Regions from separate parts of the Homo sapiens genome. Here regions 2 and 3 are each linked to region 1. The links come from fine-mapping of genetic effects on plasma protein levels. A gene starts in region 1. Each other region holds a variant in brackets. All regions are shown on one strand. Distances are from middle to middle.

Evidence for each region. A credible set is the group of variants that fine-mapping cannot tell apart. PIP is the chance, under the fine-mapping model, that this variant and not a neighbour inherited with it causes the effect. The UK Biobank Pharma Proteomics Project read protein levels with antibody pairs (Olink). The fine-mapping took linkage between variants from a reference panel, not from the people measured, so its PIPs are less certain.
Region 2: its variant is the best candidate, but not a certain one, in a credible set for the plasma level of the CD274 protein (UK Biobank, PIP 0.56).
Region 3: its variant is the best candidate, but not a certain one, in a credible set for the plasma level of the CD274 protein (UK Biobank, PIP 0.83).

The regions. Positions count from the first base shown.
Region 1 is chr9:5,448,661-5,455,252 of GRCh38, forward strand. It overlaps CD274 (CD274 molecule), which reads left to right and starts at 1,882. Exons shown (of 7, transcript NM_014143.4): 1 at 1,882-1,936. RefSeq lists enhancers at 1,659-1,708, 1,999-2,158.
Region 2 is chr9:5,496,378-5,503,093 of GRCh38, forward strand. The region is part of intron 2 of INCR1 (interferon stimulated noncoding RNA 1); the gene reads right to left. Among named protein-coding and RNA genes, the nearest start is that of PDCD1LG2, 11 kb to the right of the region's middle. RefSeq lists a silencer at 2,732-3,026 and an enhancer at 5,510-6,011. The variant C/G (reference allele first, on the strand shown) is at 3,752.
Region 3 is chr9:5,463,323-5,469,816 of GRCh38, forward strand. It overlaps CD274 (CD274 molecule), which reads left to right. Exons shown (of 7, transcript NM_014143.4): 5 at 2,177-2,284; 6 at 3,448-3,507; 7 at 4,518-6,494. The coding sequence ends at 4,540. All of the region lies in intron 2 of INCR1 (interferon stimulated noncoding RNA 1), which reads right to left. Among named protein-coding and RNA genes, the nearest start is that of CD274, 16 kb to the left of the region's middle. The variant CAG/C (reference allele first, on the strand shown) is at 575.

The DNA.
Region 1 (6,592 bases):
CACATTACTAATACGCAAATCACTGAGCAGCAAGCTGAGCAAATACCCTCAATTCCCATCAGCAACTTTAGAGAAAGGCAAATTCCGTTTGCCTCATTGATCATTTAGGTAGACCCTGAACACTGCTTTCATAAAACAAAAACAAAATACCCATCCCCAGTTTAAAAAATTATTCATAGATCATCCAGGCCATCTAGGAGGATATGATTTAATCCTGGCTACTTGGTAAATTATTTGCCCAAGTTAACTCAGCTAGTTAGTGGTAGATGGCTCTGAAGCCAGTTGTTTTTTTTTGTTTTGTTTTTTGCAGACCTCAAGAGTCATGATGAACTAGCAGATCATAAAGTTTATGCCCTGGGTCTTGACCATTTTTAGAAAAATAAAACATTAAATGAAAATATCAGAGGGCATTGCAGATAGTAGATCTAAGTATTTTTTCATGAAACTTGTTGTACATGTGTGTGTCATACACAGACTATATATATGCAGTACCTGTAAACTGTATTGCCACATAATGTCTATATTTTCCTAGAGGTCACAGTCACCAAAGTTGGGAAGTCACCCAACTTCGGGAACTTTGGGAAGTCACCCAAACTTACAGTCACCAAAATTGCTCTATTCTACTATGTGACCTCAAAAGTGATTTGAAAGAAGGAACATCTGAGCTGGGCCCAAACCCTATTGCAATTTTATTGGGGCCAAAGAGAACTCCATGCTCCTGCCAAATCAAGGCAGTGTCAGCCTCAATAATTTCCCAGATAAAAATAAAAATCTGTGATACAATCAGAATGTGAAAATTCTTATTTTGGAAGCAAATGTCATAACCAATGCAAGGGCTATCTCAATATTCATTCATTATGCAGTATTTTGAACTGCAGTTGAAATGAATAAGAAGGAAAGGCAAACAACGAAGAGTCCAATTTCTCAATTTAGAAAAAGAGAAAAAAAAGAAAAGGGAGCACACAGGCACGGTGGCTCAAGCCTGTAATATCAGCACTTTGGCGGATCACTTGAGGTCAAGGAGTTCGAGAAAAGAGAGCACCTAGAAGTTCAGCGCGGGATAATACTTAAGTAAATTATGACACCATCGTCTGTCATCTTGGGCCCATTCACTAACCCAAAGCTTTCAAAAGGGCTTTCTTAACCCTCACCTAGAATAGGCTTCCGCAGCCTTAATCCTTAGGGTGGCAGAATATCAGGGACCCTGAGCATTCTTAAAAGATGTAGCTCGGGATGGGAAGTTCTTTTAATGACAAAGCAAATGAAGTTTCATTATGTCGAGGAACTTTGAGGAAGTCACAGAATCCACGATTTAAAAATATATTTCCTATTATACACCCATACACACACACACACACCTACTTTCTAGAATAAAAACCAAAGCCATATGGGTCTGCTGCTGACTTTTTATATGTTGTAGAGTTATATCAAGTTATGTCAAGATGTTCAGTCACCTTGAAGAGGCTTTTATCAGAAAGGGGGACGCCTTTCTGATAAAGGTTAAGGGGTAACCTTAAGCTCTTACCCCTCTGAAGGTAAAATCAAGGTGCGTTCAGATGTTGGCTTGTTGTAAATTTCTTTTTTTATTAATAACATACTAAATGTGGATTTGCTTTAATCTTCGAAACTCTTCCCGGTGAAAATCTCATTTACAAGAAAACTGGACTGACATGTTTCACTTTCTGTTTCATTTCTATACACAGCTTTATTCCTAGGACACCAACACTAGATACCTAAACTGAAAGCTTCCGCCGATTTCACCGAAGGTCAGGAAAGTCCAACGCCCGGCAAACTGGATTTGCTGCCTTGGGCAGAGGTGGGCGGGACCCCGCCTCCGGGCCTGGCGCAACGCTGAGCAGCTGGCGCGTCCCGCGCGGCCCCAGTTCTGCGCAGCTTCCCGAGGCTCCGCACCAGCCGCGCTTCTGTCCGCCTGCAGGTAGGGAGCGTTGTTCCTCCGCGGGTGCCCACGGCCCAGTATCTCTGGCTAGCTCGCTGGGCACTTTAGGACGGAGGGTCTCTACACCCTTTCTTTGGGATGGAGAGAGGAGAAGGGAAAGGGAACGCGATGGTCTAGGGGGCAGTAGAGCCAATTACCTGTTGGGGTTAATAAGAACAGGCAATGCATCTGGCCTTCCTCCAGGCGCGATTCAGTTTTGCTCTAAAAATAATTTATACCTCTAAAAATAAATAAGATAGGTAGTATAGGATAGGTAGTCATTCTTATGCGACTGTGTGTTCAGAATATAGCTCTGATGCTAGGCTGGAGGTCTGGACACGGGTCCAAGTCCACCGCCAGCTGCTTGCTAGTAACATGACTTGTGTAAGTTATCCCAGCTGCAGCATCTAAGTAAGTCTCTTCCTGCGCTAAGCAGGTCCAGGATCCCTGAACGGAATTTATTTGCTCTGTCCATTCTGAGAACCCAAAGGAGTCCTAAAAGAGGAATGGAGGAGCCTAAGAATAAAAATAGTATAATAAAACATTTCTTAGACACATTGACCTTGGCCTATGTCAAAGTTCAGTCTGGGTTTGTCTTATAACACAAGGAGTAAAAGTACCATTGTTCTACCTCTTTTTTTAATACTTGAAAAAAATTTACTGTGGATGCTTTTCTATGAATTAAATAACCTTCTAAAAAATGTTTTCATTGCTGCATTCGATTAGATTGGGTAACTAAATGAAATTAATTCCTCACTGTTGGGTATAAAGGTTATTTACAGTGGTTCTGTCTTAGCCATTCACTGAACTCATTGCATATATATCTCTGGAATATTGCTGATTGTTTCCTTCAAGTAAACTTAGAAGTGTAACTACTTAGTCAAAGAGCCTGAATATTTTAAAGGCCTTTTGAAGAAAACTGAAAATGCTTTCCAGAAAGGATGTATCAGTTGACAATGACAGTCGTCAACAGTATTTAAGGAGAACTATGATACTCTGAAGAAAAACTTAGCCTTTCTCAGTAAAAGTAGGTAGGCAGAGGCCACATGACAGCAGTTAGAGTGTGGTCTTCAAGGAAGTCACAGAAATACTGTGGGGAATTGAAACCCCATGTGGAAAATGTACAAGAGTGTCTCAGTGTGACTGAGAAGGAGGTTGGGCATGGGGTTTCATGGAGTTTAATAAAGTTTGGTCACTTAGTAGAGGTTTAATAAATCAACTGTCTTAATCTTTGATCCTACTTAAGAATTTTTTTTTTGTTTTTGTAGAGATGGGGCTCTTGTTATGTTGCCCAGGCTGTTCTCGAACTCCTAGCCTCAGGCGATCCTCCCTCCTCAGGCTCCAGAAGTCCTGGGATTACTGGCGGGAGCCACCATGCAGGCCTCTTGCTCCTACTTTTGAGAAAGGAAGTTTAACCGGTTTTTTTTGTCTTTTTTTTTTTTTTTTTGAGACAGAGTCTCACTCTGTTGCCCATGCTGGAGTGCAGTGGTGCAATCTCAGCTCACTGCCTCCCGGGTTCAAGTGATTCTCCTGCCTCAGCCTCCCGAGTAGCTGGGACTACAGGCACCTGCCACCACGCCCAGCTAATTTTTGTATTTTTAGTAGAAATGGGGTTTCACCATATTGGCCAGGCTGATCTCGAACTCCTGACCTCAGGTGATCCGCCTGCCTCGGCCTCCCAAAGTGCTGGGATTACAGGCATGAGCCACTGCTCCTGGCTGCTTAACTTTTTCTCTATCTCATCCTCCTACCCATCCTACCCTTGGAAGATAGAGAAGTAGTATTAGTTCCATAGTGTTATACTGGGCTTCCCCCAGGGACAAACCCACTTCCCCAACCTGAATGAGCCATCACTTCTTCCCCAGTTTACATTTCATTGCTCTTTAAATGTCTCCATTCGGATATGGGAATTCACATATGGTCATAATTCTTACCTGAAGAAGATGTCAGTCTTCTTCTCTTAGACCAACTGCCCTGATATGAGGTTTAGAGGTTAAAGAACATGTGTGTATTTACATGATCTTTGTATTCTGCCTTTTCGTCCCTCACTAATGACAGCTGCACCCCAAGGAAATGGAGCTGTGGAAGAGAGGGTTTGATAAGAAATTAAGTAAATATTGGATCTAATCCATCACCCTCCAGGAAGCCTTTATTACTCCTAAAAATTTCAACCAAATTCATTAAAGGACAAGAACTCCACCAGAGTAGGCCATAAACATTGGCAAAATTAGTTGTAATCCATGACTAGATTTAATGTCCCTTTGTTTTATTCCCATATGGTTATAATGCTTTGCTTGGCATTAGGGGTATTTTAAGTTTTCTTCTGCCTAGTAAGTGAATTTGTGTTTATAATACAATAATCATAAAATATCACATTAATATTTTATAACTGTACAGTTATAAAATATTTTATAAGTAATATTTATATTTTATAAGTAATATTTTATAACTGTACAGTTAACTCTGGCCCAAGGAAAAGATAGTCTGATAGATGCTGCAGCCCCATTTTAGCAAATGTGACCTCACAGGCCTGAATGCCATCGCTATTCCACATCTACAGGATAGACGGAAAGGAAAGAAATAAAAAAATAGGTACCTAACACTGGCAAGAGGATGATGACTCATGTTATTTCACTTAACCTTTTTATCTTTTAACATGAAGGACTCATACAGGTTGATAAGAAACCAGTGACATAAACAGACCAAAAAATGATCAGATCTTTCAAATTAGCAAAAAAATAATATTTTTTAAACAATGGGTGAAAATACAGTGTAACAGTACCAATTATCAACATGTGTTGAGAACCAGAAAAATGTTCTTTTTCTTTGATCAGCAACACTATTTGGGAAAATCTATCCTCAGGGCCTAGCCTGGGGCCCTGGCACACAGTAGGCACTCAACGAATATTTGCTGAACACACAAATACTTATGATATTTTAAAAAATTGGCAACAATCTGATACCTAACAATAGAGGGATTAAATATTATGGAACTGTTAAATAAGATGCTTATGAATACCATGCAGTAAGATGGGCAATATTTATGCCATAAGCTTTAATGAAACAAATGGGTATTAAATGTATGATAAGGTTATAAATTACTTTTTAAAAGATTACAGGGAAAAAAATTGAAAGATATACACTGAAATGTTTTTTGCTCACAGTGGTGACAAGGTTTCTCAGCACTGGCACTGTTGACGTTTTAGGCTGTATGTCTTTGCTGTGGGAGGCTGGCCTGTGCACTGCAGGGTGTTTGGCAGCACTCTTGGCCTCTGCCCCTAGATAGCAATAGCAGTCCTCCCTCAACCAGCCCAATTTTGACAACCAAAAATGTTTCCAGGCATCACCAGATGCTCCCTGGGTGAGAGTGATGAAATAGTAGGGGATTTTCCCCTTCTTTTCTTATTTTCTGTAATTCCATTATATTACTTTAATAATAAAGAAAAAAACATAAAAAATAAACGAATGTTATTATTCTACGTCAGTTTGGATGTTTGGACTCCATTTTGGGGTTCTTTCCATTATATCACTTGGTCTGCTAAACATTCTACGGTTTGGTAAGGTGAAGTGATTCATGAAATTTTGGTTTTATTTTTTTCCTGATACTAAAAATAAAACATTCTTTCACTTGGAAATTTGGACACAGAACACCAAAAAAAATCCATAATCTCATCTCTCTTTTTCTGTCTTTTCCTTCCTTTTTTCCCTTTAAAAACAATAAAGAGTGAAACCTACCTGTTCTCCCTCTAATTTAATTCCTAAATATAATCACTGTCAATATCTTGGACATTTCCTGTGTCTAAACACACACACACACTTTTTTTTTTCAGCAAAAGTGGATTTCTGCTACATGTAGTGTTCTGCAACTTACTTTCTATGTGTTTACAAAATCAGTACATGTACATATGCTGAATTCAGTCCTTAATGGTATTATATTTTGTGAATATACCAAAATTTGTTTAACCACTTAGACAATCTAGGATATTCTCAGTTTGCTGTTATGAGCAATGCTCTTCCTTTACATATACAGACATATATATATATATGTGTGTGTGTGTGTTTTTGTTTTAGTAGGATAGATTTCTAGGAGAGGGTGAAAGGTCTTATGACATCCGCATTTACGATTGTAATAGGAAGTATCAAAGTGCCCCCTAAAGAAAAAAATCCTCCCATTAGTGGGTAAGAAAGCCTATTTGTTCATATCTTCACAAACACTAAATATTAGAAATATTTACAATTGTGGTCAAGCTCATAAGTGAAAATGGTATTTCATATCTTATATTTTTTATTGTGAGATTGAACATCTTTCATATGTTTACATGTCACCTGTATTTCTTATTCTCTGAACTATATGTTATGACCTTTCACTTTTTTTCCTCATGGGTTATGTGTAGTTTGTATAGTTGTCTTATTGATTGTTAGGAGCTATTTATATATTAGGAACATTAATCTCCTGTCTTATATATACGTGGCATCGATTAGTTGATCATTTGTGAGTTCATGTCTGTATACAAAGATTGGAGAGGCACTAAGAGGGAAAACTTACCTCTTTCTTATCAAAGTTTGTAAATATATGTATAACAGAAGAGGGAGAAAATATTAATAAATGCACAGATTGGCTGAAATAGAGTATAAATCTTTTACTCCCCTACTTCA
Region 2 (6,716 bases), 48 kb after region 1:
CAATGGATCTACGTTGCTTTTCTTATGAGAATCTAACTAATGCCTGATGATGTGAGGTGGAACAGTTTCATCCCAAAACCATTTCCACCACCCTTCCCACAATGCACGGAAAAATTGTCTACGACGAAACTGGTCCCTGGTGCCAAAAAGGTTGGGGATTGCTGATTTAGAGCATACCTTTCAGTGGTTTTTAGTATATGCACAGAGTTCTGCAACCAACAATATAATTAATTTTGAAATATTTTCATCATCCCAAAATGAAATCCCATCCCTCTAGCAGTCACCCCCTAGTTCCCCTCATTCCTCCCAGTCTTAAGTAATTATTTCCTGTCTCTATGGATTTGCCTATTCTGGACATTTCGTCTAAATGGAATCATACAATATATACAATCTTTTGTGACAGGCTTCTTTCACATAGCATAATGTTTTCAAGGTTCACACACACTGTATCACGTATCAGGACTGCATTCATTTCTAAAGCTGAGATATATTCCATTGTATGGACATACTGTTTTTTATTGTCTCATTCATCAGTCTCTGGACATCTGGTTTGTTTCCAATTTTTTGATACTAAGAATAATGCTTCTATGAACATTCATGCAGACATTTTTGTGTGTACATTTCATTTCTTTTGAAATATACCTAGGAGTAGAACACTGGGTCGCTATGTTTAACATTTTGAGGAAGTGACAGAGTTCATCTCATTTAAAATTCCAATCCCATATTTTACAAATATGAGATATTTTACAAATATCTCTCCTCCCAGAATAGGTGAAACTTATGACCCTGCAATCTTCAAGTTGGGCAGAGAAATGGCTCAGGTCTCAGGCGGTTGCAGTCTAAGGGTAGTGGCCTGTGATAATGGCTGGGGCCTCCCATGCCTTTGGCTTCCTTCTCTTCTGCATCACACGAAGCCATAGTAACTGTTGGGGTTTTTGGTCATCCTTGAGGACTCAGGAGCCTGGGATGTGAATGATATCCCCATTTTCTTCATTCCTGAAAATAAGTCTACAGCCCTTTTCACTCCCCGGGTGTGGGACACCCAGTGAACCTCCCATTTTCAGAAACTTCAGGCAAGAAGCAGGTATTAATCTCTATACAAGGCACTCTCAAACTTTGGAGATATGCGTTTAGCACCCCTTTTCTCTCCCCAAGAATGAGAGGAGACTCAGATAATATACATCCACTCTAGGCTCTCGGAACCTTCTCCCTGTCTCTTAGTCTCCTTCTTACTTGTCTTTGTTCAAGGCCAGTGGGCCAGTTTAATTTCTCTCCTCCTCCTCTCTTCTCTCCTCTCATTTCCTGCCCCCAACCCTGCACTTGAAAGACTCATTGAAGGAATTAGGCCTGACTTTATTTTTTTTACCATATTAACAAAACGATATTTCTTTTTGAAAAATTTATTTTTATTATTTTTAAAGACAGAGTCTTGCTCTGTCACCCTGGCTGGAGTGCAGTGGTGGAATCATAGTTCACTGCAACCTCAAACTCCTGGACTAAAATGATCCTCCCTCCTCAGCCTTTCAAGTAGCTGGGACTATAGGTGTGTGCCACCACTCCTGGCTTTTTAATTATTTTTTTAATTGACACATAAATAATTATATAGATTTATGGAGTAGAGTGTGCTATTTCGACACATGTCTAAGATGTATTATAATTAAATCATAGTAATTAGCATATCCATCATCTGAAACTTTTATTTCTTTGTGTTGGAAACACTCAAAATCCTCTCTTCTAGCTATTTGAAAATATAGAATACATTGTTGTTAACTGTAGTCACCCTACAGTGCTATAGAGGCCTTACTTAAATTTGACCTTTGTGAGTTCAGTAACTTTTCCTCAACAAGAAGCCATCTACCCAGTTATTTCTTCACTATTCAGTAACATGGGGCAGAAAAAAATACTTAATCAGTGCCCCACATCAATCTGTTACACTTATAATAAATCTCTTTTTATTTTGAAAAGTTCTTTTCTGTGAATGAGCCAAACCTAGACCTCTCTCCTTCTAAGAACAAACAAGTATTTCAGTTGCTCCGGCCAGAACTTCAATTCACACCTTTCCTTCTCTTACTTTGAGACCAGGCCTTTCTTAGCACATAGAGACCAGGTGGGACTGCAAGCCAAGTGTGGACTTTGAGGATGATGACCAGTGACTCACCTCCAGCCCCTGGCTGACCATGACACAAGGGAGGCCAATTTTCGGGCTGGCCCCCATGTGGTCTCCCTCCTCCTCCTCTCTTCCCCCAGCTGCTCATGACCTGCCTGCCCCACCCCAGAAATTCCTTGTCCCCATTTTCTTTTTCATTTGAGACAGAGTCTTGCTCTGTTGCCCAGGCTGGAGTGCAGTGGCACGATCTCAGCTCACTGCAACCTCCGCCTCCTGGGTTCAAGCAATTCTCCTGCCTCAGCCTCCCAAGTAGCTGGGATTACAGGTACCTGCCACCATGCCTGGCTAAGTTTTGTATTTTTTAGTAGGGATGGGGTTTCATCATGTTGGCCAGGCTGATCTCGAACTCCTGACCTCAGGTGATCTGCCTGCCTCGGCCTCCCAAATTGCTGGGATTTCAGGCGTGAGCCACCGTGCCCGGCCCCCTCTCCCCATTTTCAAGAGATTAAGCTGGTCTTCACCTGCTTCCTTCACATTCCAGATAAACTCACAGCAGATCCCTGCTTCCTGACTTTGGAAACGTTGCTAAAGCAGGTTCTAGATAAACTGCTGCCTCCTCATTTCTCACACCTTCCTTAGCTCTTGCTCTTTGCCTGTTTTCCCAAAATTCAAGTGCATTTCTTTCTCATCCTCAAGCTGTATTTTTTTCCCTTATAAAACCAAGCAGAGTGGGAAATACTGGACTTATTTTTTTGGACCTGAAAGCATTAACATTGATTTAGCACCTGCTGTATGACAAGCACTGTTCTAGGTGATTTACATGAATATTTACATCATGTCATATTACAATATATTACATTACATCGCATCACATCACATACATTGTATTGCATCATATTATATTACATTGAACTACATTTGCATTACACTGCATTTGGAGGAAAATATCTTGGGAGGAAAGGACAGAAATGGTTGTAGCATTTCTTACCTACTCTGCCCTACATTCACAGGGTGATCTTGGTTAAGCTCTGTAATCTCTCTTTGTATTAACTTTCCCTTCTATAAGATAGGAGGGGCCTCATAGATTGGCTGGTGACATAATTATTAAACTCATTATATTCTTATTATAGTCTAATAGTTTATGACCAAAATTCTAATTTTCTATTTCCAAGTGACAATGCAATGTTGAAGGGGGTGCCTAATTCTACACACAGACACACACACACAATTTAGCTATGCCTCTCAGGAATCTTCTATTAAAAAGAGAACAAAGCTAAATTAAATAAATTGCCAGCCAGGCATGGTGGCTGACACCCGTAATCCCAACAATTTGGGAGGCTGAGGTGGATGGATCACTTGAGCTCAGGAGTACAAGACTGTTAGGTTTTGAAGGGAAGGCGAGACTTAAAGAAAGACACACACACATAAGAGGGAAGTTCAACAACAAATGCAGACTTTATATCCAGCATAAAACCTACAGAAGTCAGAGACCAGTCTAATGCCAGTACCTGCTGCTGCTTATAGGCTGGGGCAATTTATAGGTATGGGCAGGAGGGGTCTGGGCAGTATGGCTTGCTGCCTGGCAGGAAATTGATAAGATGGTCCCATGATGAGGCAGTTCTGGTCCTTGTTCAGGCAGGATGT[C/G]ATCATGGTGTTCCTTGGACCTTTGCCCAGAAGGTCTTTGCCTTCTAGTTTAGCATAAAAAGGAAGAGGGGCATTGTTAATTATCTGGCTGTTTCCTGCTAAATAGGAGCACTGCACTCAGGCTTTGGGTTTTCAGCAGTGGGTGTCCGACTTTAGAGTTGTTTTCCTGGAAGTGCTGATACCAAACTTGGCAGAGAAGAATGGTATCGTGTTTCTATATAGCTGCCTGGACAAGGGAGTTCGGCCTTTGGGAGATAAAGCGGGATATGAAGGTGCGCACACATGGGCCAATTGTCAGTATTATGAGGGAGAAAATTAGGGACCCTAAGACAGGGGTTACCCAAGGTATCCACTTTAGGAAGGATGACCCCTGCCAACAGTGAATGACTTGATGTTGGATTTCTGCAGCCGTGTAATGGAGCCTGTGGGCTGCGTTGCGAACAATGCCGGCTTCATTAACATAAAAACAGCATTCTTCTTGGACATATACACATGTGCCCCAAGACAAGAATGTTAATCCAAACTGCACCATTTTGTAAGCGCCCTGCTATTTTGCAGACCTTGGTAAAAGTGACACATTTCATGGGTTTTTGGGCCATGAGAAACACCCTGCCTAACCACTTGACCACAAGGCCCACAAAGGCCCAACTAAAGAAATATCTCTATCATATCCTTCTGGGCAAAGGTCCAAGGAACACCACGATGACATCCCGCCTGAACAAGGACCAGAACTGCCTCATGACGGGAACATCTTATCAATATCCTACCGGGCAGCAAGCCATACTGCCCAGACCCCTCCCGCCCATACCTATAAATTACCCCAGCCTGTAAGCAGCGGTAGGCACTGGCGTTAGGCTGGTCCCCGACTTCTACAGTGTGCATATTTCTTTAACCCTCGCCTTCCCTTCAAAACCTAACAGGGATCAGCCTGGGCAATATGGCAAAATGCCATCTCTGCAAAAAAATACGAAAATTAGCTGGGTGTGGTGGCGCATGGCTGTGGTTCCAGCTACTTGAGAGGCTGAAGTGGTAGGATCGCTTGAGCCCCGCAGGTTGAAGTTGCAGGCAGCCCTGATTATGCCACTGCACTCCAGCCTGAGTGACAGAGTCAGACCCTGTCTCAAATAAATAAATAAATAAAAATAAATTAGAAACACATACAGCCCTTTGTTGATTTCTTTAAATGTTTTCTTCTTGTTATTTTTCAGTAATCTAACTATACTCTCCATTATTGCTTTTAAAAAATTATTTCTGTCTTTACAAAAGTAATTTGTGCTCATGGCAGACTATTTAAAAAACAAAATGAAGCCAAAGAAAGAAAATAAAAATTAACTGCAGGAGAAGGAGGCAAGAGAGCTAACTAGATGCAGCCAGGAGAAACACCTCTCACAGAGATCTTCCCAGATTTTCAGAGGGAAGGCATCAAGAGTGGACAGAGGGAAGACACAGAGGCTGGGCTGAAGCAGGAGGAAGCTGAAAACCCTGCATGAGGCTACCACACACTGGGACTTGTTCCTGGCCCCCAACAACTCCTGCAGAAGGGATGAGTTGAACAGGCAAGGAGAAACATGCTCTTGCAATGGGTCTCTGGAATCACGACAGGAAGAGACCCCTCAACCACTGTGGACACTTGAGTTGGCAAGGAGAGCTGCTTAGAGAAGTGGTAGGGGCAGAGCTCCAGGTGATGTGGAGCCCAGTAGGTTTCGTGCGGGAGTGTTTGTGGTGGAGTACAGCCAGCGATGTCCATCTCCCTAGGCTCAACTTGCTTCCATAGGAGACTTTAGCACCAGGGGAGCTGTCGGTCCTAAATTCTGCAGGGCGGTGTTGCCCATGAGATAGGGCCAGTCTGACTTCAGCACCCTTTGGTCTGCTAGCCTTTCCCAGGGCCCCAGCCTGTCCATGCCTGCTTGCAGTGCAGCCACCAGGTACCTCCTGGGAGCCCACATCATAGCACCTGTGCTGGCAGACCATGCCAGACTGTCAGAGTGCTGCAGCAGAGTAGCCCCCATGGACACACACCAGCCCACCCAGCTCATCCCCTAACTACAGCCTCCCCCTTGTTGCTTTGCTTGCACACACTTGCCCACAGCCACCCTTCATATCACTTTGCCAGTACCTGCGTGTACAGGCAGACCTCACCTTCCCTTCCCCACCAGCATACGTGTGAGCGTGTGCCCTGCCATGCCACTGCTGCTGGTGTGAGTATATCCTGCCCCTCCTTTCCCTGCAGCACTGTCCACTGTGATGGCAATGGCATTGTCATCAGAGTGTTGTTGGGCATGGAGCTGCCAGCTCCGCCCCAGCCAGTCCCCAGCCCTGCCCCTATGCGAACACTGCCTATGGCACAAAACTAGGCACAAAAACCAGCAGGCCCACCCCTGCCCTGAGCGGCCAATGCCTCCCATGTGAATGTGCACAGGGGGCACACACAGCCCTGCATCTAGCAGCATCCTGCTCCCATGCTAATCCCAACACTGGCACAAACATGTGTACAGTTGCTGGTGAGGGCCCCCCAACCTGCCTGAGCCATGCTGCCACTGCTGCTTCTATGAACACCTGCACGAAGGCTGGCACTCCGGCATCCACTAGCACCTTGCTGCAGCCAACAAGTGTGCACCCCACTGCACCGCTGCTGCCACTGCGACTGGCACATGCGACTGAGGATGGATCATGTTTCCACAGCCCTACAAAGCACTTTGGCTGGCACCATGCCTCAGAGAGTTGTGATCAGAGGTCCAGGAGCACCTCAGGCCCCTCCAACATAGCAGGTTCCTAACCTTAAGGAGCCAGAGAACAAGACCGGGGCCTGATACCAGTGCCCCAGAGTTATAACACACAGTTTGGGAGTCCTGAGCTGAGACTTGGGCCCCTAAAATCTTCCAGAAATGAAGCCAGTCTACTGAACCCACCTTATACCACAATCAAACCCCGAAGGTCATTAAATATGATATAAAAAGGGGGAAAA
Region 3 (6,494 bases), 15 kb after region 1:
TGGAATATACCTTTTGTTCCATGCATTGTAGTACTCATTGGATACACATAGAATAATAAGACTCAGTTCACACTCTTCAGGAAACAGATAAAAAACTAAGAAACAAACAAAAAACAGGCAATCCAACACCATGTGGGAAATGCTTTCATAGCCGGGAAACCTGGGGAATACCTGAGAGGAATACTCAATTCAGGCCTTGTTTCAGGAATCCAAATCCTGGCACATCAGAGCTGCTTCCCTCTTTCCAGGGTGGCAGGAAATAAATGGAACATATTTTTCTATCTTATGCCAAACATGAGGGACCCTTTCTCCCCGGTGCCTCTCCCAAGGTAGTCTACAATATTTCAACTCTAGCAGTCTGCTTAGTGCATAGAACATGAGGCTGTGTGTCCCTGGGCAAATTACTAGACTTCTGTGTGCTTCACTTTCCCTGTAGGATTATAATCTACTGAGCAAGCTTATTGTAAGGGTCAGATTAGCAACAGTGTATGAAAATGATTTGAGACCATTGCCTGCACAAATTCAACTATTTTTTTTTATCTCACTACTCTACAGAAGTAGGTAGGGTGGGAGA[CAG/C]AGTCTGATGAGAGGCTCAGAATGTGAAAGAAAGTGAGGCGAGTGAGCATGATATTTAATATAAACACAAAGATATTCTGAGAAGAGCTGCTCACTGCCCCCTCCCCCAATACATGTTGATAGGAAAATGCCACGTACTTCAGCAAAAACAACTGAAAAATTAGATAGAAAAGTCAATCAATAGGAAAAGATAATCCAGGACGGTGTTGTGAACAGAAAGAGGGGGAAAAAACTTTAGAAAATGATGGGGATGCTCTTACTGGGGTACGAGTCCTCAGGTATTGAACTGGCTTTCAGTAAAAGCTAGATTAGTGGGTTCCTGCCATTTACAAGCTGTTTTATGACAACTTACTTGTTGGGTGGCCTACAGTAACTCACCTAACTGCACTGAGTCTGTTTCCTCATCTGTAAATTGGGGATTTTTTTTTAAATACCTGGCATGCCTAACTCATAAAGTTGTTCTGAAACTGAAATAAAACATACGTGAACAGGCATTGTAAACTGTAAGTTACGGAAAAAGCTGGCTGTTGTTGTGTCTTTAAAGTTTCACCTGGGTAGTCAAAGATGGATCATGGGTCTCAGTGGAGAGCTGAGCCAGGCAGGAGCTGACTAAGGGTGAGAGGTGGGAGTTAGCAGCCTCTGAACATCTGTGTACCATGGGACCCCCTTTCCTCCTGCATGGTACCCCAGACAAGGAGCCTAGTAAGAGATACTAATGGCTTGTTGTCCAGAGATGTTCAAACTGCAGAGAAAGATAAGACAACAAGCATTGGCCTCCAATCATGATGACAGATAGGAGGAGGTGGGAGCTCCTTAGCAGTGCTGGTTGGCCTTCCATGTTCTACTGTGGGCCATCTCTGCCATGTACTGTAGGCTACTAGCTTCTATATTAAAGAATGCAAGAGGGGCCAGGAGCGGAGGCTCATGCCTGTAATCTCAGCACTTTGGGAGGCCAAGGTGGGCAGATCACTTGAGGTCAGGAGTTTGTGACCAGCCTGGCCAACATGGTGAAACTCTGCCTTTACTAAAAATATAAAAATTAGCTGGGTGTGGTGGTGTGCACCTGTAATCCCAGCTACTCGGGAGACTGAGGCACAAGAATTGCTTGAACCTGGGAGGCGGAAGTTGCAGTGAGCCCAGATTGCGCCACTGCACTCCACCCTGGGCAACAGAGAAAGACTCTGCCTCAAAAAAAAAAAAAAAAAGCAAGAGGAAGTGAAATAATCAAGGCCGCCATTTAATAGTGAGCAGCCACTCCATGTGGTACTGTGCAAGCACATTATAAATATTAGCCTCACAAGAAATGTATTAGCATTTGTATTTTGTACACTGGTTAAGTATCTTGCCCAAGACCTCAAAACTGGTTAAGGGCAGCAGAATTTAGCCCCAGCACCACCTTTTCAAAGCCTGGGCTTCTCACACTTCTCCATGCTGTTCCCATTTTAACACAGGTATCTCGCCATTCCAGCCACTCAAACTTTGGCATTTAAGAAAATTATCCTAAAGCTAAACTAAACTTCAAGGATGACCATTCTCCTGACCCCTTCCCATCAAAATTTTATCTTTAGTCAGTTTGTTTTCGTTTTGTTTTGTTTTTCAGAACTACCTCTGGCACATCCTCCAAATGAAAGGACTCACTTGGTAATTCTGGGAGCCATCTTATTATGCCTTGGTGTAGCACTGACATTCATCTTCCGTTTAAGAAAAGGTAGTATTTCCTTAATTGCAGTGGTCTCCACTGGGGGTGAGGAAGGGGTGAGAATTGGATCATGGCTGCAAGGAAACCCGACTTAACCTCTGCAAGGTGGTGCAAAGGCATTCCACTGTTCAACAGCAATTATATTGAAGCTGAGTGGGATCACTGGGTGAAGATGAAGCGTAAGGGGTGAGGGGCAGGAGAATGGGTATGGATGGAGGTAGAAGATGCAGTGTCATACAGTTTTTTTCTATCATGAAAATAACCACAGACTTACAGAAGAGAAAGAGCTAAAATGCCCGTCATTTTCAGTTGCATTTTAGTCTTGCATTAGTTGCAACCAGCTGGTTTCTGGGTACCCTAAGTAATAAAAATAGTTCCTCTGTAGAACTGTAGTATGTTTACCATAGAGTATTTTGCAAAATTTTTGGTAGAGGATGTTACATAATTTGCATGTGTTCATTTCTCCATTTACCTGTGGGAACAATTAAAATCCAGGAAAATGAGTATATTCAAATAATTTCCTCCCATTTAAGATGAGTCAGAGTAAATAATTCCTCCAATACTTAGAGAAGTATACCAAGAGATCCAGTGATGGTATAGAGTTGTCTGATGTTAAATAGGGAAGTAGAATATGGAAGGGGATTCCAATAGTCGTTGAAAAATTCCCCATAACCCCTTACATGGGGGAAAGTAGTGTTAACTGAGAGAGTAGAGATAAGCTGTTTCCAAAAATTATATTCTTAACAGGACTGAGATAGCCAGAATATAAGGATCAAGTTTCAATGACAGTAAGATCCTGAGATGGAGTTGATTTGCACAAAGAAATAATTGTTGCCAGCATGCATTTTGAATATTTCTCTGGAAAAAAAGATTAGTTGGCAGTAGAAATGGATAGAAATCAATAGATATTAAAATACCTCAGAATTTGGTTCATCTCTGGGAAAAGATGAAAAATAAAAGTGTATACTCCTCAAGAACATCTAGGATCAAAAGCATGTGCCCTACACTATTGAATTAATTAACCTCATAAGTTGGGACCTGTGGAATAAGGATGTCCACCAGACTTCCTAGGGATTACAAATGTTTCACAGAACTTGAAATTTAAACTTGGGTCACTGTATGGGATGTAGAGCTGTGCTATATGGAAATAAAAATGATTTCTTTTTCTCAAGGGAGAATGATGGATGTGAAAAAATGTGGCATCCAAGATACAAACTCAAAGAAGCAAAGTGGTAAGAATATCAGAAGGAATTGGGAAGTAAAAGTCAAAGGAAACAAAAAGCTAAAGCAATAACAAAGAGAAATCCATCAGTCATAATCTCCTCTCCTTTTAAAGAATGCTGGTTCCCCTTTGCCTCACAGCTAACACAAGAACTCCTCCACCGTCTGAGGAGGTTTAGGAGCAGGGAAGGGGAAGGAGTCAGCTTCATTTGCTAATCTTCTGTTGCCCTGCACCCTAGCAGCTCCTTGCAGCAGGGGACAAGGATGACTTAGGTGGATGGATAATTAATTGATTCTAAAATATTGTGTGTCAGTATTGTAATACTATGTTAATTGCACCATGCACGGTATCTCATTTAATCCCCCACCCCTTGCCATTACCAAAGAGAGAGAGAGAGAGAGAGAGAGAAATACTAGAATTTATCCTCATTTTACAGTAGAGAAAACAGAGGGTCAAGAAGATAATGTAAAGTGCCCAAGAACACACAGCTGATCACAAAAATCAAGCTTGGGGGCCATTAGCCTAACCACAGACCCTTACTCTTAACCCATCTGCTTCAATCCATTTTGCTACAAATGTTTACATTTATAAGCAGGGCAGAAAAACCTCATCCAGGTTATTGAACTAAGAAGAAAGTTATATTAAGGTTTCTAATTTTTTTAATGTAGTTAGAAACCAAACTTAACAATGAGCCCAAGTTTAAAGCAGTCTAATTAACCTGGACAAGCTCAGGCAAGTTTCATTCTGTGGCCCATAGCATCATCTGTGTTGTAAAGCTAAGTAGCAAATGTTGTTTGGGTCATGCTGGGGGACAAGCCATCCCAATTTGCTCAGGACTGAGGGGTTTTCCAGGATATCATGTAAGGATAATTGGGTACAAATATAACCTGCTGCTTTCTCTCATTTCAAATTTATCATTTATCATATCAGCAACTATGAGTTATGTTTTTTATTAGATTTCTTGTTACTTTTTCCCCAGACCACTTCCCATGAAATTAATATACTATTATCACTCTCCAGATACACATTTGGAGGAGACGTAATCCAGCATTGGAACTTCTGATCTTCAAGCAGGGATTCTCAACCTGTGGTTTAGGGGTTCATCGGGGCTGAGCGTGACAAGAGGAAGGAATGGGCCCGTGGGATGCAGGCAATGTGGGACTTAAAAGGCCCAAGCACTGAAAATGGAACCTGGCGAAAGCAGAGGAGGAGAATGAAGAAAGATGGAGTCAAACAGGGAGCCTGGAGGGAGACCTTGATACTTTCAAATGCCTGAGGGGCTCATCGACGCCTGTGACAGGGAGAAAGGATACTTCTGAACAAGGAGCCTCCAAGCAAATCATCCATTGCTCATCCTAGGAAGACGGGTTGAGAATCCCTAATTTGAGGGTCAGTTCCTGCAGAAGTGCCCTTTGCCTCCACTCAATGCCTCAATTTGTTTTCTGCATGACTGAGAGTCTCAGTGTTGGAACGGGACAGTATTTATGTATGAGTTTTTCCTATTTATTTTGAGTCTGTGAGGTCTTCTTGTCATGTGAGTGTGGTTGTGAATGATTTCTTTTGAAGATATATTGTAGTAGATGTTACAATTTTGTCGCCAAACTAAACTTGCTGCTTAATGATTTGCTCACATCTAGTAAAACATGGAGTATTTGTAAGGTGCTTGGTCTCCTCTATAACTACAAGTATACATTGGAAGCATAAAGATCAAACCGTTGGTTGCATAGGATGTCACCTTTATTTAACCCATTAATACTCTGGTTGACCTAATCTTATTCTCAGACCTCAAGTGTCTGTGCAGTATCTGTTCCATTTAAATATCAGCTTTACAATTATGTGGTAGCCTACACACATAATCTCATTTCATCGCTGTAACCACCCTGTTGTGATAACCACTATTATTTTACCCATCGTACAGCTGAGGAAGCAAACAGATTAAGTAACTTGCCCAAACCAGTAAATAGCAGACCTCAGACTGCCACCCACTGTCCTTTTATAATACAATTTACAGCTATATTTTACTTTAAGCAATTCTTTTATTCAAAAACCATTTATTAAGTGCCCTTGCAATATCAATCGCTGTGCCAGGCATTGAATCTACAGATGTGAGCAAGACAAAGTACCTGTCCTCAAGGAGCTCATAGTATAATGAGGAGATTAACAAGAAAATGTATTATTACAATTTAGTCCAGTGTCATAGCATAAGGATGATGCGAGGGGAAAACCCGAGCAGTGTTGCCAAGAGGAGGAAATAGGCCAATGTGGTCTGGGACGGTTGGATATACTTAAACATCTTAATAATCAGAGTAATTTTCATTTACAAAGAGAGGTCGGTACTTAAAATAACCCTGAAAAATAACACTGGAATTCCTTTTCTAGCATTATATTTATTCCTGATTTGCCTTTGCCATATAATCTAATGCTTGTTTATATAGTGTCTGGTATTGTTTAACAGTTCTGTCTTTTCTATTTAAATGCCACTAAATTTTAAATTCATACCTTTCCATGATTCAAAATTCAAAAGATCCCATGGGAGATGGTTGGAAAATCTCCACTTCATCCTCCAAGCCATTCAAGTTTCCTTTCCAGAAGCAACTGCTACTGCCTTTCATTCATATGTTCTTCTAAAGATAGTCTACATTTGGAAATGTATGTTAAAAGCACGTATTTTTAAAATTTTTTTCCTAAATAGTAACACATTGTATGTCTGCTGTGTACTTTGCTATTTTTATTTATTTTAGTGTTTCTTATATAGCAGATGGAATGAATTTGAAGTTCCCAGGGCTGAGGATCCATGCCTTCTTTGTTTCTAAGTTATCTTTCCCATAGCTTTTCATTATCTTTCATATGATCCAGTATATGTTAAATATGTCCTACATATACATTTAGACAACCACCATTTGTTAAGTATTTGCTCTAGGACAGAGTTTGGATTTGTTTATGTTTGCTCAAAAGGAGACCCATGGGCTCTCCAGGGTGCACTGAGTCAATCTAGTC